2 separate regions of the Homo sapiens genome follow, and region 2 is linked to region 1. The links come from fine-mapping of genetic effects on gene expression. Tissue or cell type: testis. Region 1 holds a variant in brackets; the other region holds the start of a gene. All regions are shown on one strand. Distances are from middle to middle.

Evidence for each region. PIP is the estimated chance that this variant, and not a neighbour inherited with it, causes the effect.
Region 2: it holds the start of CEP250, and the variant in region 1 is fine-mapped to the expression of CEP250 in testis (GTEx, PIP 0.94).

Annotation. Positions count from the first base shown.
Region 1 is chr20:36,259,104-36,261,603 of GRCh38, forward strand. No RefSeq gene overlaps it. Among named protein-coding and RNA genes, the nearest start is that of AAR2, 24 kb to the left of the region's middle. The variant C/CAT (reference allele first, on the strand shown) is at 1,504.
Region 2 is chr20:35,454,485-35,457,227 of GRCh38, forward strand. CEP250 (centrosomal protein 250) reads left to right here and starts at 1,114. Exons shown (of 35, transcript NM_007186.6): 1 at 1,114-1,267. It also overlaps a transcript of GDF5 not described here. RefSeq lists enhancers at 49-98, 359-508 and a silencer at 529-908.

The DNA of each region.
Region 1 (2,500 bases):
TAAGAAATGTGAAAACAGATTAATTATTACTTAATACTTACAGTATTTTTGGAAGGCAGACGCTTTCGGAACAGAACCAGTGGTGTTGCTGATCTCACGCTCCCTTCCAGCTCTAACACATCTACGTGTGAAGCTATTGGCAGGACCTGGCCTGATTTAAAAACCCTCTCAAATGCAGGCCTCATGGGGTCTATCTCTTATTTGCAAGGCTGGCTCATCCTATTAGCAGAATCAGCAGAGGTAGCGACTTTCTAACCCCTTCCGCTGTCCCCATGACAAACCCTCCCTGCTGTGAGCCTCCCTCGTTCCCATCGAATTTCTCACCACTTGAGCAGTGGAAGAGTTCCCCACTGTTGACTGCCTCTTACCATTATCTCCCCACCATCATCCCCTTGTAAATATTCCTTAATATTCCCAGGGCACTGGGACATGCTGGTCTCTCCAACTAATCAGACTTTGGCTTGACTGAGATGCTGTCCCCTGCTGACATGGGGGCTGAAAATGCAGAGTGAATGCCACGGTCAAGGCCAGCACTGAGTCACGTCCGCCAGATTGAAATCAGGACCATACTCCTTTCAGGGGAAGGCTCACCTGAGCTACCCAGTAATCCGGGAGCCCGTGTGGTCCTGCAGCTCTGCAGACGCTGCTTCTCTTTTCAGTCCCCCGCTGACTGTAGATGGCACTTCCCCACCTCAGATTCACTGGATCTGGCCTGGACAGGCTTTGTTTCTGTTAGAGCTTTCTAGACCCTTCCATCTTCAGAGCATCCAAGGTCTCCGGTACTGGCTAGTTATCCCCCAACCCTGGGCTCCTGGACGGGCCTCCCTGCTGAGAGATGGGCTGAGTGGTGGGATGAGAGTGGGAAATAATGTCAGCTGCTCACTACTGGGGGGCAGGGTGCGCAGGCATTCATCTGGCACTCAGCTCCCCCTGTCCCCTGCCCCACCACCACCCCACCCACCCCCAGCCTGCCAGGCCTACTCTCATGTGTCCTGGATCTGTGTCGACTCCCTCGATTTCTCTGGAAAATAGGAATCCTGAGCCTTGTCAGGCTGACAGCTGCTTGGTGGGAGGAGGCAAAAAATAGGGGCGTCTCAGTTGCATTGTCCAGTGTCAGGTGGCCCTGCCCTAAAGAAACTCAACATTTCCCTCTTCCCTGGGTCTTTGTCTTGCTGCTTCTCTCTCCTGATTTCTCCCTCTTCCCTCTGTCCACTTCCAAAAAGTGCACCTGGCTCAGGTCTGGCCTCTCACTTCTAAGGGATGACAGATGGAGTTACATCTTCAGGAGAGCCCGCCTGCAGTGAGGAGCGTTGGAGAAAAATGTAGGACCTTCACCCAAGAACAGAGGTGGGAGGGCTGGCCTAAGGAGGAGGTCTCCACATACTCGAGAGTGTAGAGTGGGGACCCGGGGAGAAGCCACAGGGTGGCTGAGGTCAGCTCCATGCCTGTGGCACTCAGGGACCACAGTAAGCTAACATCCTCGTGGGGGAGCCACACAGTAAG[C/CAT]ATGCTAAGTAGACTGCAGAGTGGGCCCATCCTGAGAAATGCTCCTGGGAAACAAAATAGAGCAGGGTAAGGGGAACGGAGAGTCCTGGCAGGGTGAGGGGAGACGCTGCATTTTTTTTTTTTTTTTTTTTTGAGACAGAATCTTGCTCTGTCGCCCAGGCTAGAGTGCAGTGGCGTGATCTTGGCTCACTACAAGCTCCGCCTCCCGGGTTCAAGCCATTCTTCTGCCTCAGCCTCCCGAGTAGCTGGGACTACAGGCACCTGCCACCACGCCGGCTAATTTTTTGTATTTTTAGTAGAGATGGGGTTTCACCATGTTAGGCAGGATGGTCTCGATCTCCTGATCTCGTGATCCGCCCACCTCAGCCTCCCAAAGTGCTGGGATTACAGGCGTGAGCCACCGCGCCCAGCCGAGATGCTGCAATTTAAAGGGGGTGGCATTTGGACAAAGATTTAAAGGTGAGCAAGTGAGCCATGTAGGGGTCTAGAGAGTGTTCCTGCAGAACAAACGGCGAAGGCAAAGGCCCTGGGGCAGGAGCCTGTCTTTTGTATTGGAGGAGCATCAGGGGGTCAGGGTCAGTAGGCAGGAGTGGGGTGACCAAAGACGAGAATACTAGGAGAGGAAACCAGGGACCAGGTTGTCCAGGGCCTATAGGCTGTTGTAAGACCTGTCCATTTTATCAGCGAAATGGGCACACGGTTGAGGGTTTCAAGCAGAAGCGTGTCATGACCTGACTTCCATGTTTTTGCTTTTTTTTTTTCGAGATGGGGTCTCACTATGTGGCCCAGGCTGGGGTGCAGTGGCTATTCACAGGCGCTGTCACTGCGGCCTACAGCCTTAAACTCCCAGAGTCAAGTGACCCACCTCAGCCTCCTCAGTAGCTGGGACTACAGGCATGAGCTACACCCAGCAGCTGACTTCTGTTTGTAACAGGATCCCAAGCTGCTGTGTCGGACACAGACTGCAGGGGGTAAGTAAGGGTGGAAGCAGAAGGAC
Region 2 (2,743 bases), 800 kb before region 1:
CTACAGGAATAACGCATGGGTCCTATTGGGAAGAAAAAGTTCTCTAGAAGTCAGGCTTAAGCAGAACTGCAGCTCCGGGACGGATTAAGTCAGGTAAAGGTAACACTCTGTGCAGAGACATGCAGACAAAACCGAGTGTTGAGTAAGTAACTCGCCTGTAAGTGTTATGCTGCCTGAAGCTTCTCGGAGCGTCTGAGCAGCAAGGTGAACAACCCTCAGAAACCGGTCGCGCTGCCAGTATTATCGCTAACCAGTGGCAGCGAGCCCCTTTGTTTCTCGGCAGTTGTAATTGTAGTCTGGTTTGTAGGTGGAGCTGTGCGCAGGCGCACCTAGAACCAGGTGACCTTGCACATGCGCTGTATGTAACACTGAAGCCAAAAGCGAAATGATTGAGGGCAATTTTTCTTTTCTGCTTCCGAAATGTCCCTTTCGCGAATCCAGAGACCCTGACCGTCCCCATTTCTGGCTAGGGATCTTATAATTCTTAAAATAATACCCCCTTTCCTTCAGGGCCTCTCTAGTAAGTCGGCTGCCAATACCCAACATGGCGGGAGGCCCTGCGCCGGCTCAGTCTGCCTATAGGTGCAGGACTTGGAGGGGCGGGCCCCTCCCAAAGGGCGGGAGTTTGGGGGGGCGGGGCCTGGCCCTCTGCCTCGGGGTGGGCTCCGCCCCCGTCCCCCGCAGGGCCTTAGCAGCGGCTGCCGCAGCTCAATCGCGGAGCAACTAGCCGGGCGTCTGCGGGAGCCGAGCGTGGTGAGGTGGGGCCTCAGGGGCAGGTGGGAGGTGCTCGGGTTAACCGTCCGAGGCCCGGAGACCCGCCCGTCTAGGGCGCCTGAGGGAATCCCGTTCGGGCAGCGGCCTCTTGTTACCCGGGAGGAACCCGAGGCCCAGAGAGGGGCTGGGACGCGTCGTTAGGGCCCGGGGCCCGCTTGCCTCAGCTTCTTGCTGCCGCCAGCACGCTAAGCTCCAGTCGGCGCCGAAGGAGAGCTTCCCGACCCTCGTGTCCAGTAGCCGCAATCCCAGGCTGGGAGGGTGAGGCGCCGCGCTCTGCCGCCCCCCCGCCCCTCGCTCCCTGTGTCCTGGCGGATTTGCACGTAATCTATCCGAAAGCCCAGTCCCACCCGCCACCCGACTCTGGAGCTCCCATTCTTCAGGACCCTGCTGAAGTATCGCTTCTCAGCCGCCTTCTCCAGGCGCAGCTGCATTCGCTTCTCGGTTTTTGCACTCGCTGTGCACCGAGTTACTTTCCCGGCCCCTCGTTGACACCGTAAGCTCGTTCGTTAGATGTTATGCCTTGCCTTTTTCATCTCTAGATCCCAGGGCCTAGCACGTGATGATAATAGTCATGGCTTACTGTACGGAATGATCACAAATTGTCAGGTGCTACTGAATGCATTACACATAAGGGCCCATTTATTTATTTATTTAGAGACGGAGTTTCGCGCTTGTTGCCCAGGCTGGAGTGCAATGGCGCGATCTCGGCTCACCTCAACCTCCGCCTCCCGGGTTCAAGCGATTCTCCTGCCTCAGCCTCCCAAGTAGCTGGGATTGCAGGCATGCGCCACCACACCCGGCTAATTTTATGTTTTTAGTAGAGACGGGGTTTCTCCATGTTGGTCAGGCTGATCTCGAACTCCCGACCTCAGGTGATCCGCCCGCTTCGGCCTCCCAAAGTGCTGGGATTACAGGCGTGAGCCACCGCGCTCAGCCAAAGGCCTATTTAATCTTCCCAACAATCCTATGGGGTGAGTTCTTTCTATAGCTTCACGTTTTACCCATGAAGAAACTGAGGTATTCATAGAAAAAGTAATTTGCCAGGAGTCCCACAACTAATAAGTGGATGGAGCTGGGAAACTGTCCCCAGGGCATTTGATGACTTGACTAGATTGCCTTTGGGTTTAATCAACGTCTGTTGAATTGATCTTTACTTTGGCCCTGGGAGTTATTGGAGGCTAGGCTTGTGATCAGTATTTTACCGCGAAGGCTTAGAAAGGAGAACTGGTCCCAGATTTATAGAGGTCACAACAAAACCAAGGCTACTGGTACGCCCTCTGTTCCTTTAGTTCTTCTATCTTTCTTTGCTCCTTTTCGATCAGAAAGCTGCAGACATAGGTGTCATTATCGCTCACTATTTAAGAAGTGCCCCTCACAGAGCTGTGAGTTCGTAGTCCATGCTTTAACTAATGTAATGTTCATGCTTTAACAGCTAATGTAATGGAGAGAGTGTAGAATTTGGAATCAGATTGGGGTTCAGTCATTGCTCTGCCACTGACCAAGCTATAAGTTATATGCCTCCCCCCACTTTTTTTTTTTTTTTTGAGACCTGGTCTCAGTCACCCAGGCTGGAGTGCAGTGGTGCGATCTGGGTTCACTGGAACATCCTGTCTCCCAGGTTCAGGCGATTCTCCCGCCTCAGCCTCCTGAGTAGCTGGGATTACAGGCGCCCGCCACCGTGCCTGGCTAATTTTTGTATTTCTAGGAGAGATGGGGTTTTGCCATGTTGGCCAAGCTGGTCTCGAACTCCTGGCCTCAAATGATCTGCCCAACTCAGCCTCCCAAAGTGCTGGGATTACAGTTGTGAGCCACCACACCCAGCCTGTTTTTTTGCTTTTTATATAGGTAATAGAGCTGTTAGCATTTTGCAAGACCATTGGTGATAATATGGATCATGTTACCTAATGTCCTATAATAGTCAGTAATAATGGGCACTTGTTATAAACCAGGCTGTGTTTTAGGTAGGAGC